Homo sapiens: one gene and its partners. The protein of the gene in region 1 binds, or shares a complex with, the protein of each later gene. Links are inferred from orthologs where the notes say so. Each region holds a gene or a part of one and is shown on either strand. Other genes may lie near its edges.

Region 1 (7,023 bases):
GCACTGTGGCTGGCACCAAGCAAACAATAAATGATAGATGCCAGCTTACAGTTGCCACCTTTTCATAGAAAGCCTCCTTCCTCATTCAACTTTTTGCTTGTTCTCCAGAGAATCACATTTTGGAAGATGTGAACAAATGTGTCATTGCTCTCCAAGAGAAGGATGTGGATGGCCTGGACCGCACAGCTGGTGCAATTCGAGGCCGGGCAGCCCGGGTCATTCACGTAGTCACCTCAGAGATGGACAACTATGAGCCAGGAGTCTACACAGAGAAGGTTCTGGAAGCCACTAAGCTGCTCTCCAACACAGGTACGGGAACTCTCCCTTTCCAGTGCTCGCACACACCGCAGCCTCAGTGAGGCAGGCCACCCCATTAGCCCAGCCCTGTGGTGAGGAAGGAGGAGTTGGGAACTCAGATTTGGTCTCATGGCACATCGGGCTCCTGAGAAGCTGGTCATAGCCAAATTCAGGCCTCACAAGCATATTTTCTTCATCTGTATCTCATGAGTAATCACGGGACTAATTCTAAACACACGATTTAAGATGAATTTCTGAGTTAAATCTCCTATTAGTGAGTAAAGACTAAATTAAGGTAGGTCCCATTCTTAAGCAAGGCTTCAAGTTAGTCTCACTTCAAGTTCTCAACCATCCAATCTCTGTTGCAGAGAAAAAGATGATTTGAGTCGTAAAATACTGCATTTAATTTATTTCAACTGTAAATACCCTTCACACAGGTAGAAGCAGAGGCTCATCATAAGCCTCACCTCTTTCTGTCTAGCTGAGTGATTCAGGGAGGGCCAGGGGAATGATGCTGCCTGCTGACCAGGGTATCTACTGTGCCTCTTTCTCCACAGTCATGCCACGTTTTACTGAGCAAGTAGAAGCAGCCGTGGAAGCCCTCAGCTCGGACCCTGCCCAGCCCATGGATGAGAATGAGTTTATCGATGCTTCCCGCCTGGTATATGATGGCATCCGGGACATCAGGAAAGCAGTGCTGATGATAAGGGTGAGTAACTGCATTTCAGACGTCTTAACAGCTTCTTTCTTATCATTTGCTAAACTTGAGCAATGCGTCATTCTAGAACTCGGCAGATGCGGTGGCAGTATATTAAAACCATGAATCTAAAAGCTGTTAGAATGAGATATATTTAATTACGTTGTCTAAAATGACTGTTAGTTGCAAGTTAGAGCCCAAACTTGGGCCAAGAAGGGGAGCTAGCCTGAGTTGACGATTTAATTTAGGATAAACAGTCTCTACAACATGAGGCTTCAGTTTGAGTTAGGCAGGAAATTATAGAAAATAATGGTTCTCAAGCTAGTATCAGAGAAGGAAGTATTTTCATAATGCGGATTCAAGTTATTGTTCACATGAAGTGCCCCTCTCTTCGGAGGGGCTGCAGGCAGACGGGATGATGGAACCCCAGGGTGTTGGGGGGAGGAGCGGCCCCAGGTGATGCTCCTAGGCTCATGGCCAAGTGCCGAGCCCCTTTCCCCATAGCCAGAGTGCCTGGAGGGCCTCTGTCGCAGGGGCAGAGGAGAAAGGGGCCTCTATGGCATCTGTGATTGAGCTCCCGGCATACCGTCCTGCTCTCTGACAACTATTCCTGTCTTCATTCAAGAATCATCCAGCCCCTGGGCCTCTCAGTTTCTTGATGTCTTGTCCTCCTCCACCTCAACCTCACGGCCATAGCTGTACCTCAGCTTTTGTCACTGCCTGCCATTGTCTTTGTCATCCCCAGCAGCCTAGATCTATTGTTCAGGTTGCGCCCTCGAGTCCTGCAACTCCCAGCGAGCCTTTGAGTCTACTGTGGGGTCTTCAGTCAGTTGGTCCTCCCCATGTGTCACTCAGCCCCTTGTGTCCTTGGTTCAGTCCTTTGTTAGCTTTGAGTCCATAGTTGAATATACTCACTCCTCTGCCCTGCTGTTTCCTCACACCTGCCTTGCAAGGTGCAGTCCTGGCAAGATCCTGCTCTCCTGAGCACAGTGCAGATGGCCACAGCCACGCTGATGGAGCCGCAGAAGCCGCGGCCATTTGTGCGCCCTTGCTGCCCTGCAACAGGCGTCCACCCACCCACCCACACCTGTGCCCCTGTCCTGTTTGGCCCACTTGCCGATTTCGTTGAGGATACTGAGGCAGTTAGTGCGTCCACCCCTCTGCATCCCATGTCTGTGTGCTCTACCTTCCTCCTAGCACCATGGGCATTGCTCTCGGTGCTTCTGGCCAAGGCCATCCCTTGCACGTCTTTGTACTAGGATCCCAGCTTCTTCACCCCCTGCCTCCTGTACCTTTCCCCAAGCCTATGATGATTTCTCCCATTTTTAGGGGGAAAAAAAAAGTCTCTTGACCCACACCCCTTCTCAGTCTCCTTGGCTGGTTTCTCCCCATCTCCTCAGCCTGTGAAACACGGGTGTGGCCTGCTGGGAAGTCCTTGACCTCTTCAGAGTCCTGTCTAGAGGCCGACTCTCCTAAGTTCCACACCTGTCTGCGCACCTTGCCTCCTCCCTCTCACTTGCTCCACCCAGGCAGCACATGTTAGTTGATAGTGACTCCGTCTTCCCTTGCTCGGGCCCAGACCTCGAATCTTTTATTTCCCTTTTGTCCCATACCTCACATCTGCTTTATCTGTGAATTCTTTTGGCTCTCCGTTCACAGTAGAGAACCTGAACATGTTCTCACCCTCGTCTAAGCCACCAGCACCTCTCACCCGGGTTCATGCAGGTGCCACTCAGCTGGTTCCCTGTTCCCATCCTGGGTGCCTACAGTCTCATGAGCCACAGGGCAGCCAGAGCGATTTCTGTAAGCTTCAATCAGATCATGTTATCCTCTGTGCCAGCGTCTCCACAGGCCGCCACGTCACTCATTCTTTATGCTGGCCTACGAGGCCTTCTGGGACTGGAACCTGTCACTTCTCCAACCTTATTTCCTGCTGATCTCCTCTTGTACTCATGGGGTTCCAGGCAAGCCGGTGACATGGGGGCAGTGAGCTAAGCCCCCCTTCTGTGGCCTCCTTGCTATTCACGCAGTTCCCTGGGCCAATGCCCCTTCCCCACGGCCTCTATGCTGCCACCCGCCCCCCCTTCCCCCTCCTTGAGAGCACCTTCTCGTGAGACTTTTCCAAACACCCATATAGAATTAAAATCTCCCTTTATTCATCACTGCTTTCTTCATAGCACTGGTCACTTTTGATGTGTCATATAATTCATTTGCTTACTTTGTTGTCATTTCTTCCATTAGAATATGCGAGAGGAATTTTTGTCTGTTTGTCACTTTGTATCTTTAGGGCCCAGAACAGTGCTTGGCAGAGAGATAATGAATGAATGAATGAATGAATGAATGAATGAATGAGAGTACTCGGTTTTCTTGGCAAGAACGGTTCTTGGGTCTGCGATGGGGTGCTGGGGAGGTAGAGATGATGTTAGGAGGTGGTCCTTTGAAAAGCCCCTTAACTGATTGATTGCATGCCAGTCCCGAAGGCATGTGTGACTGCAGCGTTAAAACTGTCAGTGCTGGCATTGTGTTTTGTGCCACCGAGTCCATCGGCCTCCAGGACCTCACACCGACATGCTGTCTGGTCCCCTGCGTGAGCGTCCACTGTTCTCACCTCATCAAGGGACAGGCCCAGCCTTTGCACAGCACGTTCTTGGTGGTTCCAGAATGTTTCTTGCATATCTTCTTGTTTGAACCTCACTGCAAGTCCTTGGGCTGGGCTTGGACTATGTCCTGGTACACAGACGAGAGACTCGCCTCACTGCCCTCCTGTCACAGGCCAGCCGGCTGGGCTGAGCGCCAACCCCAGCTGTTCTGCCTGCTGCCCCCTTACTGATAACTGCCAGAGGACAACATTATGTTTCAAGTCAGTAGCTAATCATGAGAGGCTGGTAGTTGGTACAAAATAAGAATTTTATTTCATAATTAAAGCAAAGAGCTAGGACCAGTAATCAGTCCCTTGGGTATTTACTCAGCCCTCACCTGCCATATTCTCCCCTCTTTTCTTTTGATGAAAGTCAAAAGAATACTTTAAAATACATTGCCTATTTTTACTCCTCCAAGCAGCCTTGGTACCCTAACAGAAGGCCCAGTTATTTAATTTTCTTTTTGTCATAAAGTAGGAAAGTTATACAAATCCGCTTAATACTATACAAAACACCTCTATTTTTAAGTCAGTACCTTTTCTACCCAGGACAGTTCTCATCTTTGTCTTAAAATGCCGGTGTTGGGGAAGTAAATTAGGAAGTAAAAACCTTATGTCACTGGGCACAAGTGGCTCACGCCTGTAATCTCAGCACTTTGGGAGGCCAGGGCAGGCAGATCACCTGAGGTCAGGAGTTCAAGACCAGCCTGACCAACATGGTGAAACCCCGTCTCTACTAAAAATACAAAAATTAGCCGGGCATGGTGGCATGTTGCCTCTAATCCCAGCCACTTGGGAGGCTGAGGCAGGTGAATCTCTTGAACCCGGGAGGCGGAGGTTGCATTGATTCCAAGATCACGCCACTGCACTCCAGCCTGGGTGACAGAGCGAGACTCTGTCTCAAAGGAAAAAAAAAAACAATCATGTCTTACAAAGAAATAGTGAATTGACTCAGTGATAGCAATTGAGCCCCACACACAGTGAAACCAGCCCAGGCCTGCTGTGGGCCAGGCAGCCCAGCGTGTGCACCAGTGAAGCAGAGGCTCGAGACAAATGCTGAGTGATTTTGACTTTATTCACCATACTGTTCAGAACACTGCACATTAAAATCCAGAATTCTGGGCCTCCGTGCACCTGGCCAAGAGGCTCAGGGTGGCTGGGGGCTGGTGGCCCAGAGATGTGTCTGACCTGTGATCTTTGTCTGGGTGGCAGACCCCTGAGGAGTTGGATGACTCTGACTTTGAGACAGAAGATTTTGATGTCAGAAGCAGGACGAGCGTCCAGACAGAAGACGATCAGCTGATAGCTGGCCAGAGTGCCCGGGTAAGGAAGCGCTCCGTGGGGCAGTTCAGCTTGTGCTGCCGACTTTCCCTGTCCCCTTTCTTGTTTCCAGGAAAACACCCTCAGTATTCAGAACACCGTTTCTCTCTCTCTGTCTCTCTGGCAGTAGACTGAAGTTAAACTAAGTTGTGGCACCTGCTAGTCAAATGTAGCCTCCTCAGCTAGAGGCAGACCAGGTCCTGGGCCTCCTCTGCAGTGCCCTGAGCTTTAGTTTATGATAGAGCCCTGGGTCAGGGAAGGGCTAAGATTTAGTCAATGCAGTGTTTGTTGAAAGGATCGTGAAATTTGAAAAAGATTGCTGCCTTTGTCCATCTCGATACTATGGGTATGAACTATTTAATTATTCATGGGTTTAAAAAATAACAGTGGTACATTCAAGAAAGCCAGTCAGAGCCATTGCATTCATTTGAGTCATTAAATCTTCAATCAATAGCATTTATGTTTTGGGGAGGATGCCAAGAAATATTTCTAAGGAGTCTTTGATTTCACTCCTTGGAAATCTGTCGTGAACAGCGAGCACATCCCTGCCTTATGTCCTGCTCAGTCATGAGCACTTAGGGAAGCTGAGAGGGAGGAGCTCCCCAGCCGTAGGTCTGTGGGCTGGAGGTGGGCAGCAGGCCTCCAGGTGTTGCTCAAGTATGGCCTGAGTGCCAGCGGTATCTCTCAGCCCTCTTTCTTCAGGTGTACATTCTAAAGCCACTTTCAGTTCATCTTGAATAGTTGGAAATGTCCATCAGGGCCCACCAGGGAAAGGGCTCCACACTTTCATCAACCCCTTCTCTCATTTCTTGTCTTATATTAATAAGAATTAAGCAGGTTCTGTCCCTGCACAGGTGTGATTCCAAAGCTTCCACATTAGCCTTCCACCCCTCGCTGTTTCCTTCCACACTAAAACTTGTGCTCAAAAGTGGGTCGGAAATTCAGGCTGCCATAAGTTTCTGCAAAAAATGAGAGAAATAGCCCTTCAGGCGAAATGAAACCTATTAAAGCATTATCCTACCTATGCCACAGATTGCCTGTTGGAAATATTCTTGGCTAATGCACTCTGAGAACTTCATATTCTTTTTATGTAAGAGCTCTTTGTGCTTCTGATCACAGGCGATCATGGCTCAGCTTCCCCAGGAGCAAAAAGCGAAGATTGCGGAACAGGTGGCCAGCTTCCAGGAAGAAAAGAGCAAGCTGGATGCTGAAGTGTCCAAATGGGACGACAGTGGCAATGACATCATTGTGCTGGCCAAGCAGATGTGCATGATTATGATGGAGATGACAGACTTTACCCGGTGAGCAGCACCCCGGCCCCACCAGGCTGCACAGGGGCTACTTTCTTCCCCACAGGTCACCTGCGCAGCGGCTCAGACAGCCCAGGCCATGGGGCTTTGTGGACAATCTTCTTTTTCTACTCCAACTGTGAGGGGCTTCACATACAATAATCCTTGTTCTCTTCCCTCTTCTCAGAGGTAAAGGACCACTCAAAAATACATCGGATGTCATCAGTGCTGCCAAGAAAATTGCTGAGGCAGGATCCAGGATGGACAAGCTTGGCCGCACCATTGCAGACCATGTAAGTGACAGACTTGCCAGGTGGGTCTCCAAGCTCCTCCTGGGGCTCAGGCAGCCCAGCCTGGTCCATTCAGGGTAAGTTTCATGGGCCACAGCACTTTTGCCACTCATCTCTAAAAATGGTTCTTATTAATCCCAGCATAGATTTGTAAGGATTCTCTAGAGCGGATGTGTATGTCCTGGAATCTTCCATCGCTTGGTAGCCAAAATTAACCTCTGCTATTGTCTCTTATGTCTCAGTTCCCTCTCTCCCCCTCTGGGCAGGGGCCGAGAGCAGCCAGAAGCCATGTGGCCAGTGCTGTGGAAGGCTGGTGTGCCTAGATGGGCCCAGGTTTCTTCATCCTCAGCACTGTGTTTCTCAGCCACCCCGTCTTCATCCCCCTATTCCCTCACACTGATAGGTACAAAAATACGGTTCCTACCGCCTGGAAATTGTACAATACATTTCATTTGGTGTTTTAAGCCTGATCAAGAGAAGCTCTTTCTCAGT
Region 2 (6,998 bases), on another chromosome or scaffold:
TAAAAGAAAAGAATCATTTTTTTTTCTGAATACTTTGGAAGGTGAAAATGGCTTGTTTTAATCTTATCCATGATTTACTATAATTCTATTATTTTTAGCAGCTGGAGTCCAGAAATGATTTTTTCGATGAATTTAGGATTTTGCCGCAGTATACATCTGCAGTCCCAGAATCCTCCGGTAAGTTAATCCTTCTTGCGATGGGAAACGCCTTTAACCTTCTTGTGAATGAAATATCTGCAACCATTTTGAAATTTTTAATGGGGTGTGTGTGTGTGTGCACGTGCGTGTGTTGCGGGTGTGTGTCTCCGAAACATGATTTCTTAGAAATGCAGCGGTACTTGTCTGAGTTCTTAGAAACATTGAGAAACATATATACCTTTATGTTCTTTGAATATCATGGACGATGACTCCATTGCTTCTCCTTCATACTTTGTATGGTAGCCATTAAAATGTACTTCCTTAGTCTGGCAAACCAATGAAGGCCTCGAGTACACATAACTCCAAGCATGTAGGGTGTTCCTGACATAACTGAAGTGACCAGGCCATAGCAACCACCATGGCCATTGCCTCCCGCCACCTTCACCGCCCCTCCCTCGCTCTGCAGTATACATCAGCTGCAAGCTTTCCACAGTGGCTTTCCGCCGAACTTGCCCAGTGGGTTCCTAGATTACTTCTGTGTGCGAGAATAGCCAACCATGTAGTCTGACAAGAGGTATTTACAACTACTTAGCCTGTTCAGCTGGAAAGAAATCAAAAGATAACACTGAACCCTGAGATGATGTATTACAAATCAAAAGTCCCAATCCATAAATAGCCCACCTGATGAACTGCTAAATGAAAAGCTGATCCTGATTGTTGTCCAGTGTTTTTACATTGTCCTAAGAAATATTTTTAACAAGCCTTCTTGGAGAGTTGGGATTGTTTGTTTTTAAATGCATGGAATATTATTCTTACCTTTCTGCTGGGAAGGGAGCCTTCCGAGGGGATTCGGATGTAGAGTCCAAGTGAGACCACACCCTACTTTCACAGCTTTTTTTCTACCGTTTCTGCTTCTTTTTAAATAGGGTGGATTAACAGTTACAATTTTACATTAATTTAAGAGACTTAATCAAATGGAGCCAGTCATCCGTTTCCCTCTCTCTAAGGGAAGCTCATTGTCTTAGATGCTCAATAAATGTTTAATTAATGGATTTGATAGAGTTAAGTATCCTAAAAGTGAACGAACCTTCTTTACAATACTGGCATATTTCTGTGATTCATATTTCTGTCTGAAGTGTGAAATAATCTTGGCTTTTTTTTTTTTTTTTCCTCTCTTAAAGGTAATCAAAAGCCTCTGTTTTAGCGAAGGGATGCCTTACATTCAGGTTCAGTCTACCACTGCTTTATATGCCAGTGGCCTGATAGCGTGAAAAGAAATATCTTCTCTTTTAAACTAGCTGGAGACACTTTTGTTTCTAAGAACACAGCCTAAAAATTAGAACCACTTGTCTGTCGCCATTTTATAAAATTAATTTATGTCAAACCCGGGGTGACTGGCTCTAGAAGGAAAAGACATAAAACAGATAACCAACTGTTTTTATGAAATGTATTGTCCAAGGTCAATTCAAAAAAATTATTTAACAAAATTACTTATTTTACCAAACTCATGTATCTTGATAATGTATTTTTCTTTGATTTAATGATAGTGTTTGTCTTCATTTCACAGAAGTTATTCATCTCTTATTTTTGGTGAGACAACTAGAACAATTTCTGCTTTATGAAACATGCAAATAAAAATTAGGAGCAATGTTAAATTTAACTAACTTGGTTTAATGCTAGTCAACCAGTAATTCTTCAGTACACTTAATATGATGGGAAAAACAGCATGCTGCATTGTTGCAAATTTTACATTTTCTTTAATAAAATGTATTTGTTTACGGTGTCAGTAGGGATTAAAAATCATAATTCTAAATTTAAAGTATTTAAATTATAGAAAAATGATTCCATTATTTTGGTAATGGAACAGAGAAATACAAATATAGAAACGTTTTTATCCTTTAGATCTTCTAATGGTGCAGATATTTCTTAACCAATTTCAAGAGTGCCTTATTCAAAAACAAAAAACCTGCACATAGAAAAAGCAAACATGTTTTTTTAAAAAAAGCCCTGTAAAAGTGGTTAATCTGTCGTCTGATTTTCAATGTATGACTTTAATCAATTGCATATTCCTTAATTCTGCAAATGACAATTAAAATTAGGAATCAGTACCTGAAAACGCCATTTATACTTTTGAGTTTATATTAGAAACACGGTTTTGATGAAATACCTTTTTCGGTTCAATCTTTTTGAATTGTGACCACAACCAATAGCTACACTTAGATTCTACAGAATTAGTAGGAAAGATACAAATGAGAAGGTCTTTCTAGACAATGGATCTCACTGAACATCATCTTAGTGTGTAGACTTTTTCCACTGCAGTGGCCCACATGTGCTATGGTGACAGACGGCAGTTGGCATTACCACTTATATAGTAAAATATCTTTAAGACAAAAATAAAAGTTATTTAAAGAATACGCTGGCCCTGAAACATGAGCTGTGCCTTAAACTACATATCCTACCTCCATGAGTGAATGAATAAGTGGGTTTTCCGCCTGCATCTATGTGTTAAGACCTATTGTTTGCTTGTATTAATTGTAGTCCTGGGATAAAAGCACAGAGGTAACTTTCACTGCTGCTTTTTGTACTCTCTCCAATGTTTTGGAGGAAAAATAAGCACAAACAATAGCCTAGAGAAACTGAATCGATCATACTTGTTGCAGCTTCGACAAACGTCAATTTTGCTGCATTAGAATGGGAAACATTTTTCAGTCTATTGAAATGAATTACAAACGTTTTTAAATAGAAAATTAGTTAAAAAATTGGAGGCTGCTTAATCGATAGCTTTCTCTATAAACATACTTGGATTTCACAAATAAGTAATACCGTAAAAATCTTCTTCTCCAAAGAAAAATCCCCACAAATAAATCTATTGATACCTAGTGACAAGTGGAACCAGATAAAAATGGAATCTATAAGAATTAACCTAATTGACAGCGCTCTGGAGCTAATCCATTTCCATTAGTTATTTGTTCACAGTAGGTACTCCTAAGGACTTGTTGAATTGCGGGCTTGGCGCCCGTTCTACGGAGAGTTCACAGCCTTCGTGAGTGGGGACAGAAGGCGGCTCGGCCCGGTGATTCAGGTCGAAATTCAAGCTGAACAGCCTGCTGAGAGGTGGGATCCACCATCCGGACAGTGGGGGGCTTTGGGGGTGCTGTGAGACTGGGCTGCGACCCAGGTCCAGCAGGGAGTGTGCGGCACAGACCACAAGGTCGGCGAGGCCCCCTAACCCGCGCCCGGCCGGGAACCCGCAGACCAGCGACGGGGCAGCTGCGGGGCCAGGAGCGCCCCAAGACGGGCGGGCGCTGAACCCGAGCCCCTGCCGCCGCCCTGGCCCCGAACTTCCGCCCTCCCAGGACCTGTCCCGGCCGCCCCGAGCGGTACTCGAAGGCCGGGGCCGAGATGCCACCTTCCGCAGGCCGCGGGAAAGGCGCGCCGAGTCCTGCAGCTGCTCTCCCGGTTCGGGAAACGCGCGGGGCGGGGGCGTCGGGCTTGGGACAGGGGAGGATACCAGGGCCACCTTCCCCAACCCAGGCCGCGGGGGCCCGGCCTCCCCGATGCAGACCACAGCGCCCTCACGGGCTGCCCTCAGGCCGCGCAGCGGGCAGCCGCCAGCCGTCACCCCGGGGAGCGTCCGTGGGGTGCCCAGGCACCCCACCCCGGCCCGGGGCGCTCAGACGGCAGCAGACTGCTGGGCGGCGCGGGGACTACTTTCCACCGCCCCCTCGCGCCCCGCCCCTTGTCCTCGCGCGGCGGAACGCTCCGCGCTGCGCCGGTGGCGGCAGGATACAGCGGCTTCTGCGCGACTTATAAGAGCTCCTTGTGCGGCGCCATTTTAAGCCTCTCGGTCTGTGGCAGCAGCGTTGGCCCGGCCCCGGGAGCGGAGAGCGAGGGGAGGCGGAGACGGAGGAAGGTCTGAGGAGCAGCTTCAGTCCCCGCCGAGCCGCCACCGCAGGTCGAGGACGGTCGGACTCCCGCGGCGGGAGGAGCCTGTTCCCCTGAGGTGCTTGGGCGCTCCTTTCCTTATCCTTCCGGGGCTGCTCCCGCTTCCTCTCGGAGCCAAACTTCGTAGCAGGCGCGCGGTCCGGGCGGCGGGCTGGGCGCAGCCGGGAGGCCTGGGGTTGGGAGCGGGGAGCTCAGGTGGGGGACGGTGAGGGTGGGCCGCGCCCGGGGCGCGGAGGGCGGCGGCCGGGCCCGGGTTCCGGTCGCGCTGCCTCTCTGGGGCCCTGGGGGCATCGCTTGCGGGGAGGGGGCGCCGCGGGGGCGCGTACAGGAGCCCGGATGGCAGGCGGGGTGGGGGTGGGGGTGGGGGTCTGTGGTTTCCGTCCGGGGCTCTGGCCTTGGCCGAGTTTGGGGGAGGGACCCGGTGCCTCGGGATGCGCCGGGCCCTGGGTGGGGGGCGGGGTGGGGACGGGGGGCTCCGCCTTCTCAGCTCTTGCGGCGAGTTGGGGTTCGGGCGCTGAGGCAGAGACGCCACCCTAAGTCCCATCAGTCCTGGGGATCGGACCAGTGGACTTTCTCTTAAGATTTCCTCTTTCATTCTTAAGAATAGAAGTGTTATTATTTTTTTTAATGCCCTGGCTATGTGAGTTTGAATCGAAGCAACTTTAAACCTTAGAGCAACTAAACTCTAAGTGCAGCGGGTGCGATGCGTCAGTAGGGTGAGCACATAAAAAATCCATGTCTTGCACCTGTATTTTAGCGTACTATGCAGGTGAGTGAAAGCAGTGGATAATGTACTGGGAGTCTTATGGATTTATGGTAGTGGGTATGAGACCCTGGTGAAATAAGGGGGTGGAGGAAGGCGAAGGTGATGGCTTACTGTTTCTTACCAAGTGAACTGCAGGATTCAGCCTCTGACTCAGACCGCTTCGAGAATTTTGTTCGTAGAAATAATTTAAATTTATTCAAATAGTTTGATGGCAGCTAAAATTGAATTATAGAGCACGTTTTCTTTTCAGCGGAGTGAATTTTTCCTTCGCTCCAAAGCTGGCCAAATGGAATTCAAGCATTGCAACTTCTTTCAGTGTTTTGTCTGGAGAGAGGACTTTGAACCGAGACTTTTCGAAGTTAAGTTCCTATAGCCTGCTTCTGAATCTGCCAAGCTTGAAAGCTTTGGCAGTTGGGTGTATGTAGTTGTTGCCTTCGTTCTCTTCCCTTTTGGAGGGAGCGTTGTCTCCTACTTTGTATCTTCCAGACATCTGTGGTCTTCCCCCCACCCCTCGAGTTTGTGAGTGGTGAATGAAGAAAGACTAGGCTGCTGGTATGCAGAGGTCGGCAAAAGGAAATCGAGGAGTGGTTTTAGTGAAATGAGAGCTTTGTATCATGAATAATGGTGGCTTAGGCTAGACATCAACTTGAAGAGACGGCAGCATTTCCTTTCATAAAGTCTAGGCTAATGTTTTTCAGATCGCTAAGTTGTAGTTTGTCTGGAATTTAGGAAGCCATTTCAGTATTTGTCACTTGGTGAACGAACATTCAATACCTTCAGATGTCTTCGTGTTGACTTGTATTCATCCTAAGAAATAGTAAATATAGTCTCAAGTGTTATTTATGTTATACTGCTGGTTTATTCTCTGCTTAAATTATTGACATAAATTTCTACTTTGGAGGCTTTTCGTTTGAACTAAGGCTGTGCGGAATTTATTTTACTTTTATATTTAAATCTTTGAAAAATCTCTGATTAAAAAAAAAGTACCCTTAAAGGTTTGAGGATGTCCTTTCACACCAGACAAAATTTGGTTAATTTGCGCCCAATATTCATTACTTTGACCTAACCTTTGTTCTGAAGGCCGTGTACAAGGACAAGGCCCTGAGATTATTGCAACAGTAACTTGAAAAACTTTCAGAAGTCTATTCTGTAGGATTAAAGGAATGCTGAGACTATTCAAGTTTGAAGTCCTGGGGGTGGGGAAAAATAAAAAACCTGTGCTAGAAAGCTTAGTATAGCATGTAACTTTAGAGTCCTGTGGAGTCCTGAGTCTCCCACAGACCAGAACAGTCATTTAAAAGTTTTCAGGAAAAACCAACTTAAAAAAAAATAAGGTGGCTAATTAAAAAAAAATGAAGCATTTAACAGTGTTCAGGTTTCAGAGTATGGAAGAGGGGTTTTTTAAACTGTTATCTGATTATTTCTTTTACCAACATGATATAGAAAAGTGTATTTCCAGTATTAAAATTTATCAGACTGAGCTTACTGTTCCTGTTAATGACTGGAATAAAAATTGGCATAAATGAGGGTCTGTATGCTTGTTTTAATAACACCACCACCAAGATAGAAAACGAGGAGGCAAGTTTCTCCAAGGGTATTTTGAAATGTGTTAGCAAAACTATTGCAGATACTCGTTTTTGTTATAGGGTGAGGTGGGGAGAGGCGCATGCTAAGTATTGTTGAAACTAGGGATGTAGAGAATTAAAAGTTTGAATATAATTATTTTGTAGTTATAAGTAGCAGTGAAATTAAATCTCCTGCAATAGACTATAGAAGTATATTTAGCCAAATGAAACTTCAGTGTTATTGAAATGAAATAATACATCTGTCCTGTTACAAGATTATTTTTATTTCTCTTGTGGTTTCCTAGCTTCTGATAATCAATAATTGTAGATGAGTAGGTGGTAAGTTTTAAGTTTGTACTTTGAGCTTAGTCGGAAGCATGCTTGACTGCCAACCCGGGGCACAAAGGATGAAGGCTTTTAGAACTGGACAAACTTCTAACAAAAGGTATTTGCAACTCTTTTGTAGTGTGTCATGTTGATTTGTGACATTGTTTTTGAAAATATGTGTTAACTTAGTTTTCTTGTAGCCCTCTTTTTATTGGAACTGTGGTATCTATTGTTGAAACTGCTTGACTGAGAACATT
Region 3 (7,023 bases), on another chromosome or scaffold:
GAGAATGGAAACAACAGCTCGAACTAAAACGAGCCCTTGCTAGAGGCAGGAGTGTTTCATCTTGGCACAGGGGCAGTACTCACTTAAATTTCCAACTCCCTCCAACTCCCCACTACCCTTGTTGGGATAATGTATGCAAAAGATCTATTTTCCATAGAGCCCATGGGGAGCTGGATGTGCTAGAATGGATATTATTTTAATCTTTAGAACGAGAATCTTTCCATATCCATATGCCCACCATTGCTGTCCTAATTTCTTAAACTTCCTGGAATTGTGTCACACGTTGTTTATCAGTAAAATTTCTTCTTCCAGAGAATTTGTTAGGTATGTGGTTTGGAATGATAGGATATCATCAACTTGCAGGGACAGGCTTGTAGGAGGTAGTTCAGATATTCTTGTCTTTCCCTCTAGACTATGAGCAGCTTGGGTGTAGGTACTGTCTTATCTCTGTATCTTTTTAGCACCTGTCTTAGTGTTTGGTACATACTGAGGTGCTCAGTAAGCCTTGGTTAAATAAGGCATTTGATGAGAATCAGTGAGGGACTGATTTGTGGGGAAGGCTTGAAAGGAAGCAAAACAACATAGATTAATCAAATTGCAATGTACTTTTGCAACTTTTACTGTAGTCTGTAGTTTTAACCTTTTATGCGTCTCCTCCCTTAATTTTTTTTTTTTTTTTTTTTTTTGAGACAGGGTCTTGCTCTTGTCATCCAGGCTGGAGTGCAGTGGTGAAATCATGGCTCACTGCAGCCTCAAACTCCTGGGCTCAAGTGGTGCTCCCACCTCAGTCTTCTGAGTAGCTAGGACTATGGGTGCACACCACTATGCTTGGCTAATTTTTGTGTATTTTTGTGGAGATGGGGTCTCTCTATGTAGTCCAGGCTGGTCTCAAACACCTGGGCTCAAGCCATCCTCCTACCTCGGCCTCCTAAAGTGCTGGGATTATAGGTGTGCCCCACCACACCTGGCCCTCCCTTATATTTTTAAGCAAAGTTTCTAGAGATAATGGAGGATTTAAAATTTTAGCTTTTCTTTAATCCTGTTCCTTTCTTGGCAAGTGGTACAAAGAATAGTATAAAAAGTAAGGATCTGGCCTGGTGCGGTGGCTCACGCCTGTGATCCCGGCAGTTTGGGAGGTCCAGGTGGGTGGATCGCTGGGCAACATGGTGAAGACTCCTCTTTACAAAAAATACAAAAATTAGCTGGGCGTGGTGGCATGTACCCGTAGTCCTAGCTACTGGTTGCAGCAAGCCGAGATCATGCCACTGCCCTCCAGACTGGGCTTGCAGAGCCAGATCCTATCTCAAAAAATAATAATAATAAATAAATAAATAATAAGTATCCTAGTCCGTTCATTTCATAATGAACTTCAACACTGAAAACCTTAAATGTTGCCATTTTCTAGGGGAGAGTATATTAAGACATCAGCAGAAAAGTACTGCTTTCAGCCCTGGTTGGAGGTGAATGGTTTCTGTGCTTGTTAATAAAAACGTTAAGAGCTTGGGATGATAGTTTTGAACATCAGTGTTTCAAAGAAAGTATGTTTGGATATCAGTGTATTTTTTAAATCACTGTTTTAGCCACAAAACTTTAGATTTTGTTCATGTATTGGGAAGCTTATGAGTTTAAGAACCGAAATTAGTTTTCTTGGGTAATTTAAAAGGTATTAACAAGGAACTTGCCTACAGGAGTGAACTGTAGGTAATAAGGATGTGAATAAGTACAAATATTCTTTCATGTTCTCTTCCCTCAAAGAAGGGTTAAATGACACACAAAGCTGAAGTAGGGATTGCTCTGCCTAAATTATGCAGCTGCCTCCAAGGTTTCCAATAGAGCATTGATGTAGCCTGGCAGGGAGATTGTAAGAAGGCAAGAACAACTGTTCTGGTTAGAACTAATGAGGGGGAAATTAGGGTATGGATTGATTTGTATTTAATTGTTTAATGTATTTTTCGGAAGTAATTTTTTTCCCTAATTCTACTTGGAATTGCATGTTATTATTAAATATTAAGCATTGAGAATGGGGCCTGAATTTACCACTTTATTCAGGGATCGTGTTCCCTGTTTTTAGGGCCACTTCTTCTCCAGTGAGCCCTTCAGTTTGATTGGTGTGGTGTGGACAATTTAGATCAGGCATATAGTGGGGGAATTATAAAGAGGCAAAGAATTTTCTTATCTTTTTTTTTTTTTTTGAGATGGAGTCTTGCTCTGTTGTCCAGGCTGGAGTGCAGTGGCACGATCTCAGCTCACTGCAACCTCCGCCTCCCGGTTTCAAGCGATTCTCCTGCCTCAGCCTCCCAAGTAGCTGGGACTACAGGTGCGCGCCACCACGCCCTGCTAATTTTTTGTATATTTAGTAGGGATGGGTTTTACCATTTTTGCCAGGTTGGTCTCAAACTCCTGACTTCATGATCCGCCTGCCTTGGCCTCCCAGATTACAGTCTTGAGCCACTGCGCCCGGCCAGAATTTTATCTTAAAGCCTTCCTTGCTGGTCAGCAGTAGGTAATTTGGTCATGACTTTCACAAAACATGTCCCAGGTTGGTTGATGTGATGTGATGACAAAAGCACTTCTCAACTTTTTATTTCAAACTTGCAGGAAAGTTGCTCTAGCACAGTAACTGGTATACTCTTCATTTGCCTAGGTATCATTTGTTAACATGTTGCCACAAATGCTTTATTCTATATTTTTTGGTAAATATGCTAACCAAAAAGGGAATTTCCAATCTGAGACTTCCATAATATGGTGAGGCAAGGCAGCATAACATAATGATTAAGAGTATGGATGGGGAGCTAGACTGCCACGGAGGAAACATGTAACCTAGGGCAAATTGCTTAATCTCTCTCTGCCTTGGCCTCCTTGTCTGTAAAATGGGGATAATATTAACCATCTTATAGATTGTTGTGACACTTAAGTTATTTAATGTATGTGAACTTTATAGAGTAATGCAGAGCTCCTAGTAATGTCTTGTGTTTGCTATTAGAATGGATGCTTCAAAGAACTCAAATTTCGTTTGTTGAACTAATGCCCTTGAAGGTCTTTTTTTTTTTTTTTGAGACGGAGTCTTGCTCTGTCTCCCAGGCTAGAGTGTAGTAGTGCAATCTTTGCTTGCTGCAACCTCTGCCTCCCGGGTTCAAGCAATTCTCCTGCCTCAGCCTCCCGAGTAGCTGGGACTACAGGTGCCCGCCACCACGCCCGGCTGATTTTTGTATTTTTAGTAGAGGAGGGGGTTTCACCATATTGGCCAGGCTGGTCTCGAACTCCTGACCTCAAATGATCCACCCACCTCGGCCTTCCAAAGTGCTGGGATTACAGGCGTGAGCCACCATGCCCGTCCGAAGGTCTCTTAAAACCTGAGAATCTGTGGTAGATGTAGGTGCTTGCATTACAGAATATATGGGCTTCCTGAGTGGGTAAAGCTAACTTTTAAATTTTTTTAATGGGAAAAAATTAGTAATAGGTAATATTGGAGAGTTGTGTGGGTGAGGTTCAAAACAACGGTAGTATGAGAATGGATAACTTTAGTAAAGTGAAGTGTCAGTGGGAGGAAGATAAACAGAATGATTTGTATGATTTGTGGACATCATCCTTTTTTTTTTTTTTTTTTTTTTTTTTAGACAGAGTCTTGCTCTGTCGCCCAGGCTGGAGTGCAGTGGCGCGATCTCGGCTCACTGCAAGCTCTGCCTCCCGGGTTCACGCCATTCTCCTGCCTCAGCCTCCCGAGTAGCTGGGACTACAGGCGCCCGCCACCACGCCTGGCTAATTTTTTGTATTTTTAGTAGAGACGGGGTTTCACTGTGTTAGCCAGGATGATCTTGATCTCCTGACCTCGTGATCCGCCCACCTCGACCTCCCAAAGTGCTGGGATTACAGGCGTGAGCCACCAAGCCCAGCCAGACATCATTCTGTATTTGCAACCCTTATTTGTGGACATTTATAAAACTGACATGAGTTCATGAATGCTTCCTGTGAGAAGTGTGCTTCTAAGAAAGGAGTCAGCTTTTATATGTGGAAAAGCCAAGCTGTGGTCTGTGGGAAATACATATGTGTTAGATACAACCTTGCCTAGAAACTTGCGGGTTTATTCCAGCCTAGGAATTTTCCTTCTCTTTTCCTCCCTTTTCTTCATACTTAAGAACCCATGAAACTAGTGTTCTAAATAGTACTTAAGCCAATTTCTTTGAATAATTTTTTTTTTTTACATTTTTATTTTAAAAATGAGACAGAGGCTGGGCGCGGTGGCTCACACCTGTAATCCCAGCACTTTGGGAGGCTGAGGCAGGCGCATCACTTGAGGTCAGGAGTTTGAGACCAGCCTGGCCAACATGGTGAAAACCTGTCTCTACTAAAGATACAAAAAAAAAAAAATTAGCTGGGCATGGTGGTGCATGCCTGTAATCTGAGCTACTCGGGAGGCTGAGGCAGGAGAATCGCTTGAACCCGGGACCCGGGAGGTGGAGGTTGCAGTGAGCCGATATCATGTCATTGCACCCCAGCCTGGGCGACAGGGCGAGACTCCGTCTCAAAAAAAAAAAAACAGAGAGACAGAGTCTTGGTATGTTGCCCTGTCTCCAACTCCTGGGCTCAAGTGATTCTCCTACTTCAGCCCCTGGAGTAGCTGGGACTACAGGCACACACCACCTTGCCTGGCTATTTAAGCTAATTTCTTTTGGCACTCTGTAGCCTCCCACATTCAGTTCCTCACATTTATTTTACCTATAATTTCTTCTACCAATTCTCCTGTATTTTCTCCTTTTCTTTTGCTTTCCTGTTCTCTGTGGTGTCTTCCTTTGTCTCTCTTTGCCTCCTCTTGCCTCCCCTATCTTTTTTTTCTTTTAGGTTGGGTTTCCTTTTTTTCCCTTTAGGTTTTCCCTTAGGTCTTCATGGGCGTTGCTTTGCCTCACTAACAGTTAACATAAAGACGTATTTCTGTTTCTTGTACCCATGTGCTAAAGGTACAACTGTTAGGATACCACTTCATTTCAGTTAGATCTAGTTTAGGCATACAATTGTAATCCAAGAAGACTGATCTCTTCTAGTGATTCAGATTGGTTTTATCTTTGATTTTTAGATTTCATCTGCATTTCTTGATTAATTACTCATTTTGGTTTAGTTGACAGTTGAGCAAAAAAAAAATTACTTTCTCCGGAGTAAATCATCTGTTTTATTTATGCTTTCTATGTTGTTCTATGTTGTAGTGCAGTAGCACATTAGGAGGTATCTTTGTGGAGTGAAAAGATTTTTGTGGCTGGGCGCGGTGGTGGTTCATGCCTGTAATCCCAGCACTTTGGGAGGCCGAAGGCAGGTGGTTCACCTGAGGTCAGGAGTTTGAGACCAGCCTGGCCAAAATGGTGAAACCCTGTCTCTACTAAAAATACAAAAATTAGCCGGGCGTGGTGGCGGGCGCCTGTAATCCCAGCTACTCGGGAAGCTGAGGCAGGAGAATTGCTTGAATCTGTGAGGTGGAGGTTGCGGCGAGTGGAGATCGCACCACTGCACTCCAGCCTGGGCAACAGAGTGAGACTCCGTCTCAAAAATAAAAAATAAAAAAAAAAAAGAAAGATTTTTGTTACACGGTTGGGCTCGGTGGCTCACACCTGTAATCCTAGCACTTTGGGAGGCCGAGGCAGGCGGATCACGAGGTCAAGAGATTGAGACCATCCTGGCCAACGTGGTGAAACCCTGTGTCTACTAAAATTTCAAAAATTAGCTGGGCGTGGTGGCACATGCCTGTAGTCCCAGCTCCTCAGGAGGCTGAGGCAGAAGAATCCCTTGAACCCAGGAGGCAGAGGTTGCAATGAGCCGAAATCGCGCCACTGCACTCTAGCCTGGCGAGAGAGTGAGACTCCATCTCAAAAAAAATAAAAAAATAAAAAAAAAGAAAAGAAAAGATTTTTGTTTTAGGAAGCTCATATTTTAAGAAACTAAAATATATTCTCATGGTTGAGGACATAAGACATTGTTATAGAAACTAGGTCAACTTCTCAATACCTTTATCAAAGCACCTGCAGTTCCCATTTCATTGCAAGTGAAGTAAATCTCATTGAAATAAAGTAGCTGGTGTATATTCAGTACACTTTTAAAATAGCCTATTTTAAAAGAGAAATTGGTGCCAATCTGATTTATTTCCTGCTTTGTTGGAATGGGGGAAGTTCTGTAACCTCATTGCTGTTCTGCTCTCTATTGACTACTTTGTTAACTGGGGCACAGTTGGCCTCTTGGATGTCTACCGTGCTGAAGGTCAGCCAAATAGGCAGGTAAGACTACCTAGGCCTCTTCATAGGCCTAACTAAGATCACAGTTGGAAAAAAAAAAGTATAGAAAAAGAAAAGAAAGTTGTTTTTTTTTTCTAAAATTTAACTTTTTGTATTCATTGAAGAAGGAAGTAAAACATCTCCATTCAAAAGAAATTTGAGAGTCTGTTTATGCCATACACTGAAGTACAACAATAAACAAAATAGACCTACTGTTTGTTCTCAAAGAGCTTACATTCTAGTTGTGAGAGACAAATAATAAGCGAGTAAATATGTAGTATGTCAGAGTGTGGTAATATTATTGAGAAAAAAGTAAAGTAGAATGAGTAGTATGGAGGAAAGAACGTCTCAGGGTGGGGGTGAGGTTATTTTATATAGAGTGGTCAGGGAGGGTCTCATGTGTAAGGTATGTTTGAGAGAGACCAAGAGAAATGGAGGATGGAGTCATGTAGATATGAGGAGTAGGAAGTGCAAAGGCCCTGAGGCTGGTTATTGCCAATGAACAAAAGAGATTGAGGGGAGGGAAGGAGAAGTAAGAGACCTGTCCAGAGAGGACCAATGGGAATGTATTTTGGGGGAAGGGGAATAATGTAGGGTCTTGTTGTATACTATATTGTACAAAGAAAAATTATCTCCACTTCAAACCCCAGAGACAACGGCTGTTACCGAATTTTTGTGTCTTTCTTGTAACTTGAGGTAGCACCTGACCCAACCTCCATATTTCTCCCATTGTGGAATCTCCATGAAAGTATAGTTAGCAGATAATTTG
Region 4 (7,755 bases), on another chromosome or scaffold:
AGATTCTGTCTCAAAAAAAAAAAAAAAAAATCAAACATATACGAAAGTGGAAAGAGCTTCACAGTGAATACCCGCATGCTTACTCTCATAACCAGACAGTTGCCACCTGGCTGTGTCTACTCTGTCCATCCGTCTAGCCACCTAGCAGTCCCAGCTGTGGCCTATTCCAGGCATCAGTATCCTTCCAGCTTCTGCCTGCCATGCTCACCCTCCAGGGCCTCCACTGTGGGTAGCTGTTTTATACTATATATATATATATATATATATATATATATATATATATATATATATATATATATATATAGAGAGAGAGAGAGAGAGAGAGAGAGAGAGAGAGAGAGAGAGAGAGAGAGAGAGAGAGAAAGAGACAGAGTTTCACTCTTGTTGCCCAGGATGGAGTGCGATGGCTTGATTTCGGCTCACTGCAACCTCCACCTCAGCGATTCTCCTGCCTCAGCCTCCCAAGTAGCTGGCCATGTGTCACCACACCTGGCTAATTTTTTTGTATTTTTAGTAGAGACAGGGGTTCACCATGTTGGCCAGGCTGGTCTCAAACTCCTGACCTCAGGTGATCCACCTGCCTCAGCCTCCCAAAGTGCTGGGATTATAGACATGAGCCACTGCGCCCAGCCCTGTTTTATATTATGTTAATAGCTGCTATGTCTATGGCAGAGTTGAACCTACTTCACCACTACTGGAAGCAGAACTCTTCCCTGATTATTTTAAAAACCCTTCTCAAGAGTGTTCTGAGAAATTAAACTTTTCTTGTGACTATGAAGAAACGGGAATTGAATTCAGAAGTATTGGCTGGAAAATTATTTTTGTGTTAGTGAATATAGAAAGGTCTTGACTCAGGGGACATATAAGCATGAGCCATTTTATTCTTCCTTAATCTGAGCCTTCAACCAAACCATTTCAATCCCTCAGTTACAACTGGGGCTCATCATTACCCAGTCACGTCAGTCAGTAAAACCAGCCCAGCTTAAAACTTCGATGTCAGCCTTGATGGAAATCTAATCTCTTCCATCCACCCTGGGTGGGCTGGACTCCCAGGTGGGTGTGTGGGCAGGGGAGGCTTGGGCAGCCCCTCCTCACCTTCCAACCCAGCACTGAGATCCTAAGGCATGGTGGTGCTTTGCTGTTGGGACACCTCTGCTCCCTCCCTCTTCCAGGCTCTGCCTCCCCTAGCGTTGGTGACAGAAAGAGAGACTAAGGGAAAGCCTAAGGCCTGTCCTCTGTAACAGGCCACTCTCCCAGCCTTTCACTGCGGCTGGCTCACCTCTGCAGAGGAGGCATCGAATGCCAGCCTTCTCACCTCCCCAGCCAGGAAAGAAGGCTTGAGCCTAGCGCTTTACTTCTCTGGTGTTTACTTGATCCATATGGAAAATGCCAAAGGTAGGCAGAGTCAGGTGCATTTGTCATCTTCCCTCAGTCCCACTGTCCACCTAAGTTCCCCTCCTTTCAGCTGGGCATGAGGCCTGGCCAGCCAGACCACTGTCCACGCAGAAATCCAAGCCGGGTGGGGATGCCTCATGATGCAATCATCATTACTAAAAAAAGAACAGTGAGAACTGGAGGTGGCTGGGGGCACTCCTCAAAAACATGAGAAGGTTGACCCTGGGTAGGTAATTGTAGCTCATACCTCCCTTGCAATCAAGTAACTTTTATCTCATGAGCAATCTCATTTCTTCACTTGTCAGCTTACAGGGAGCTGGGAGCTGCCACCATGTGGCTATAAAGTATTACTGTACTTCCAAGGACACAGAAAGGAGCGCTAGACTATTGTCACTATGATCACATGCTCAGAATAGAAAGGGAGTGGGGACATCTTCAAGCTCAGGCTCACCCAAGATGTGCAGCAGGTGATGCCCAGAATCACCAGCTGAGTTCCAGGCCCCGTGGCCTACCCAAGTAGGGTTGCCGTGTGGGGAACTGGCATTCTGCTTAGTTATTTTAAACGCTTGAGAATGTTGAAAACTTGTTTGTTTCTAATATATTAAAATACCAGTTCCTATGGTGTTTTTTGTTTTGTTTTGTTTTGAGATGGAGTTTCACTCTTGTTGCCTAAGGCTGGAGTGCAATGATGTGATCTCAGCTCACTGCAACCTCCGCCTCCCGGGTTCAAGGGATTCCCCTGCCTCAGCCTCCGGAGTAGTTGGGATTACAGGTGTGTGCCACCATGCCCGGCTAATTTTAAAATACCAATTTCTTTTAAACTTAAAACGAATGTGAAAGTGGAATCCTTCACTGTTGTCCCCCAGCTCCGCCCAGACTAGAACATTGTGAGGCTAATGCCTTTCTAGCAACAATATTTTAGTCCCCAGCGCTATTCTAGCAGCAGGGAGTGCTCAACTGACGTGGTTTTTTCACATATATTTAACATGGTTTAGCTCACCTGACTTATATATTCTAAATTAGTGATTCTAACTTAATCAGTTTTTTAAAAATAGGCTATCATTATAGAAATATCCACTTTGAAAATAGGCACAAGGTATTCAGTTTCTCTTTATGCACAGGAAATATCTATAGACTTTAAAGTTGTATTTATTATTCTTTTCAATAATAAGCTATTAATTTCAATAAAAATAAACTATTCAAATTAAAATATTCAGCAGCATCTCAGAGCTATGAATGTTCAGTTAAGCAAAGAAAGTTTTTTTTTTTTAATTGGGAGATTTTTATTTTATATTTTATTTTTGATGAGTTCTTTTTTATTTTTATTTTTTAATTTTATTTTTCCATAAGTTATTGGGGTACAGGTGGCATATTGGTTACATGAGTAAGTTTTTCAGTGGAGATTTGTGAGATCCTGGTGCACCCATCACCCAAGCAGTATACACTGCACCATATTTGTTGTCTTTTATCCCTCACCCTCTTCCCACTCTTCCCCCCAATTCCCCAAAGTCCATTGTATGATTCTTATGCCTTTGTGTCCTCATAGCTTAGCTCCCACAAATCAGTGAGAATATACAATGTTTGATTTTCCATTCCTGAGTTACTTCATTTAGAATAATAGTCTCCAATCTCATCCAGGTCACTGCAAATGCTGTTAATTCATTCCTTTTTATGGCTGAGTAGTATTCCATCATATATATCTGTATATACACATATATATACATATATATGTGTATATATATGTGTATGTATATATATACATATATGTGTGTATATATGTGTATGTATATATATACATATATGTGTGTATATATGTATGTATATATGTGTATATATGTACATACACATATATACACATATATGTGTATATATACATATATGCGTGTATATATGTACATACACATATATACACACATATATGTGTATATATGTACATACACATATATACACGCATATATGTGTATATATACATATAGATACGCATATACACATTTTCTTTATCCACTAGTTGATTGATGGGCATTTGGGTTGGTTCCACGATTTTGCAATTGTGAATTTTGCTGCTATAAACGTGCATGTGCAAGTATCTTTTTCGAATAATGACTTCTTTTCCTCTGGGAAGATACCCAGTAGTGGGATTGCTGGATCAAATGGTAGTTCTACTTTTGTTCTTTAAGGAATCTCCACACTGTTTTCCATAGCAGCTGTACTATGTTATATTCCCCCCAGCAGTGTAGAAGTGTTCCCTGATTGTCACATCCACACCAACGTCTACTGTTTTTTGATTTTTTGATTATGGTCATTCTTGCAGGAGTAAGGTGGTATCGCACTGCGGTTTTGATTTGCGTTTTGCTGATCATTGGTGATGTTGAGCATTTTTTCATATGCTTGTTGACCATTTGTATATCTTCTTTTGAGAATTGTCTATTCATGTCCTTATCCCACTTTTTGATGGGATTGTTTTTTTCTTACTGATTTGTTGGAGTTCATTGTGGATTCTGGATATTAATCCTTTGTCAGATGTATAGATTGTGAAGATTTTCTCCCACTCTGTGGGTTGTCTGTTTACTCTGCTGACTGTTCCTTTTGCAGTGCAAAAGCTCTTTAGTTTAATTAGGTCCCAGCTATTTATCTTTGATTTTATTGCATTTGCTTTTTGGTTCTTGGTCATGAAATCCTTGCCTAAGCCAATATCTAGAACAAGCAAAGAAAGTTTACCTTTTATTTTATCTGTTTACTACTTTAAACAAGGTAATGTGATAAAAAGGTCATGTTAAGGTAATCAGGGTTAATGTATCACAGATTGTGTTTTAAAACTTGCTTACTGCAACCTTAAGTATTGGTATAATATAATCTCAAATTGTCTCTTTCAGAATTCTCATGCAAAGACTCCCGGGTTGCCACAGAGATCCCTGTCCATAGGGAGGCTCTTTCCCATCTCTCCTCCCTCCCACTTTAATTCCAAACTCAAAAAGGCAGATTAATCTAAGCTTAAAAAAGGTTTTAGTAGAAATAATTTGAAAACCCCAGAGCCCTGGGATATTGTTGGAATAACGATTTTTAGTGCTTTGGAAAGTAAAAGTTGATTTTTCTTTTCTTTCATTCTTCCCCATCCCTTCCCCCTTAATAAAGTTATCATTCTTGTCATTTTCTAGTTTTTTTTGTTTGGTTCAAGAGGATAAGATTATAGAAAATAGTCACTAACATATCCTGCTATAGAAAGAGATGATTGGACCTTCTATTTGGAAACCAGAACAAACAAGGAAACAAAGAAACAAATAATTCTGCTTTCCGATAGGTGCTGGTTTTACTTCCGCTGGCTGAGCTGTTGTTCCTGAGGTCAGACCCCAGCCAGTCTTTTGTGTACGTGCAGGACCATGGTGGCTTTAGTTTCTACCCCACCCTTCCTAGGAACTCTACTTGTGGCAAACGTATGTTCAAGCTTACAAGTCAGCCCACCCCACTCTGATAAATGCAAGAAAAGCTGAAAAGGGAGGAGCAAGATGGGATGAAAGCATCTGGGCCAAAGTGACCTGAAAACCTTTAGAGAAGAAGCTGCTGGCTGAGAAGGAGGTGTGTGGCTCCGGTGAGACCACCAGCTTGGAGGACTGGTCATCAGCTGCACGTTCTGGGTCTGTCTTGGGTATTCCCATATGGCCATGAGATCCGGGAGGCACCCCTCGCTGCTGCTGCTTCTAGTGCTGCTGCTGTGGCTGCTGCAGGTAAGCTGAGCCTGCAGCCTAGTGCTCAGGTGCAGGGAACTGAAAGCAAAGCACAAGCTGGCCCTGCCCCTTCTAGGCTAAGGGAGGGGAGAGGGACTGAGTGTGACCTGCTGGGACCCAGGGCTGGCTGTCTTGAGAATGGCTTAGGTAGCAGGGGCTCTGGATTTATATAAAGGGAAGTTAAGGGTCCCAGTCTGTTTGGGGCAACAGTGGGAGCAGGCTAAGGGACCTGTTTAAAACTAATTTATATAGTTCACACTATTTTTAGTGAGATTACATCAACACACACGTGTTTTCTTTCTTTGTTTCTTTCTCCTTTTGTTGAGACAGGGTCTGGCTTCATCATCCAGGCTGGAGTGCAGTGGCATGATCAAGGCTCACTGCAGCTTTAACCTCCCAGGCTCAGGTGATCCTTCCACCTCAGCCTCAAGAGTAGCTGGGACTACAGTAACTTACCACCACGCTGGCTAATTTCTGTATTTTTTATAGAGATGGATTTTCACCATGTTGCCCAGGCTGGTCTCGAACTCCTAAGCTCAAGTGATTTATTCGCCTTGCCCTTCCGAAGTGTTGGGTTTACAGGCATGAGCCACCTCACCCAGCCAACACACACAATTTTTTTTTTTTTTTGAGACAGGGTCTCGTCATCCAGGCTACAGTGCGTGGTGACATCTCAGTGCACCGCAACCTCCTCCTACTGGGTTCAAGCAACCTCCTGGCTCAGCCTCCCGAGTACTGGGACTACAGGTGCACGCCACCATGCCCGGCTAGTTTTTGTATTTTTATTAGAGACAGGGTTTCACCATGTTGGCCAGGCTGGTCTCAAACTCCTGACCTCAAGTGATCTGCCTGCCTCAGCCTCCCAAAGTGTTAGGATGACAGGCTTGAGACACTGCGCCCTGCCAAGTTTTATAATGATACTTCTGTTCACACTTTACATAAGATTGAGGAAATCTCAGTTGTCTGGATCCAAGGCAATTTGAGCAAACCCATGGGGATGGAATGGCTAAATCCATTGCCCCCAACTGCCACTGTTTAAATGGGAATACAAACTAGTGGAGTCAGGATTCGAAACACATGGGCTTGCTCTGTTTGTACTTAGAGTGGACAGAGGTAATGTTGCATGCGCTTGTTGGTTATGATCTGCTTCGTTGGCTTTCTGTAGGTAGGGAGAGGGAATCATTTCTTCCTTTGAATACCAGCTGAGGGTGGGAAGCAGCCCAGTGGCTGGTAACTGTGAGCTCTGGACTGGGCTGCTTGGCGTCCTGACCTAGGCTCCTTCACAGCCCGCTGGGGACCTAGGCCAGCTTAACTTTGTTCCTTACCTTGGATCAAGTTGAACTTACCTAGGGAGCTTCAAGGGATCTCAGTGCCTGGGTTTTGCCCCCAAAGGTTCAGGTTGAGCTGACCTGGGAGTGCACTGGGTGTCAGTGCACTGGTTTTAACATAACCTTGTTAAGCCTATTTTTCTTCACCTGAAAATGGAGCTAGTAACTGAATTTATCTGAGCCAGTGGTTGTACCAGTGAATGAGGAAATGCGTAAAAGCCCTTGGTACTGCGAAAGTTGTCAGAATCAGAATGGAGTTCCTTATGTTAAAACACACACACACACACACACACACACAGGCACAAAGCCTGATATATAGACACAAAGAAGGTTATGAAAAGGGGGTTCTCACATTTGTAGGCTTGATAACTAAAACTATCACAAAAGCTCTGCAAAAATAACAACTTTGCACAAAGGCCGTTAAAACCTTACACAAAAAATACTTTTTCGAAGAAATCTTCCCAGCAACTTTTTGTGCAAACTCAGACCAGTGTCACCCTTCTTATTGATCTTTGTAGCCAAAGATAATTATTTCAAAACAATGATATAATCCTTCTCATTTTTTCCTTTGAAAACCTTTATCTCCCTTTACCTCCCTGACTCTGCACATCGTTTACCATGGCACACATATTCCCATGGATATGTCCTTGCCCAGACAAACGTCATCTTCTCTTAGAGAGCCTCTGTCTACTATTAGGTTCACAGTTCAGTAACGACCCAGCCGTTTTTCTAATCACAGTGAAAATGGTTGGCAATATTCATTCAGAGCTCATGCTAAAACTATTTACTGGATACCTGCTTTGGGCCAGGCACTGGGAATACACCAATAAACATAATAGGGGGAAAACCCTGTCTGAAAGTGGATAACTTGTTTGGTACCAGTTGCTTGAGGTTTGGAGAATTTTCTTGGTCACATTTTGCCATATCAAGAGTTACGAGTTTCCTTAGTCAGACAGCACATTAATTTGATCTCCAATACTTCACAGAAGTCCTTTTTAGTAGCCCATGTTTGCATGGATTTGAATATAGTCCAGATCAAATCCTGTCCCCATCCTTCCCTCACTCCTGCTCCTACCCACAATGAGTCTGATCAGGAAACAGACCTGAATTCTCTTCCCTCTGGCGTATTAGTGCAGTGCCAAAGCAAATTAATTGACTTCTGAGGGTGGTTGGGTGGGGGTGGGCAGTGGGAATGGGTCTGTGGATTGTACTTCAGTGATTGATGACAGCAGCTTTATGTAGATTCCAGGGAATCAAGACAGATGAAGAGAACATGATTCAATAGATGTAAGAAGTTTTTAGCAATCAGA

What was found.
Region 2: the proteins of CTNNA1 (region 1) and CTNNB1 are in contact, whole or in part, in a crystal structure (PDB 1DOW), measured with the Mus musculus proteins. The link is inferred for Homo sapiens from one-to-one orthologs. Residues at the interface, in NP_033948.1 of Mus musculus: Ala58, Leu61, Ala62, Ser64, Val65, Gln67, Ala68, Thr69, Asn71, Phe72, Lys75, Gly76, Lys78, Ile79, Glu82, Met104, Ala108, Phe111, Pro115, Cys116, Arg121, Met124, Ala128, Leu131, Leu132, Val135, Leu138, Leu139, Ala142, Asp143; in NP_001159374.1 of Mus musculus: His118, Thr120, Asn121, Val122, Gln123, Arg124, Leu125, Pro128, Ser129, Met131, Leu132, Lys133, Ala135, Val136, Asn138, Leu139, Ile140, Tyr142, Glu147, Leu148.
Region 3: CTNNA1 (region 1) and CTNND1 share a complex: the UniProt entries of both Homo sapiens proteins name them as parts of the cadherin:catenin adhesion complex.
Region 4: CTNNA1 (region 1) and CDH26 share a complex: the UniProt entries of both Homo sapiens proteins name them as parts of the cadherin:catenin adhesion complex.

Annotation. Positions count from the first base shown.
Region 1 is NC_000005.10:138,924,402-138,931,424, forward strand, and holds part of CTNNA1 (catenin alpha-1), read left to right. Parts: intron 1-108; coding exon 109-309; intron 310-854; coding exon 855-1,006; intron 1,007-4,844; coding exon 4,845-4,955; intron 4,956-6,071; coding exon 6,072-6,253; intron 6,254-6,428; coding exon 6,429-6,534; intron 6,535-7,023. UniProt on the Homo sapiens protein: Associates with the cytoplasmic domain of a variety of cadherins. The association of catenins to cadherins produces a complex which is linked to the actin filament network, and which seems to be of primary importance for cadherins cell-adhesion properties.
Region 2 is NC_000003.12:41,195,530-41,202,527, forward strand, and holds the start of CTNNB1 (catenin beta-1), read left to right. Parts: upstream 1-3,975; 5' UTR 3,976-4,141; intron 4,142-4,192; exon of another isoform or gene 4,193-4,278; intron 4,279-4,613; exon of another isoform or gene 4,614-4,852; intron 4,853-4,861; exon of another isoform or gene 4,862-6,859; intron 6,860-6,998. UniProt on the Homo sapiens protein: Key downstream component of the canonical Wnt signaling pathway.
Region 3 is NC_000011.10:57,764,798-57,771,820, forward strand, and holds part of CTNND1 (catenin delta-1), read left to right. Parts: intron 1-7,023. UniProt on the Homo sapiens protein: Key regulator of cell-cell adhesion that associates with and regulates the cell adhesion properties of both C-, E- and N-cadherins, being critical for their surface stability.
Region 4 is NC_000020.11:59,953,679-59,961,433, forward strand, and holds the start of CDH26 (cadherin-like protein 26 isoform a precursor), read left to right. Parts: upstream 1-4,744; 5' UTR 4,745-5,048; coding exon 5,049-5,117; intron 5,118-7,755. UniProt on the Homo sapiens protein: Cadherins are calcium-dependent cell adhesion proteins. They preferentially interact with themselves in a homophilic manner in connecting cells; cadherins may thus contribute to the sorting of heterogeneous cell types.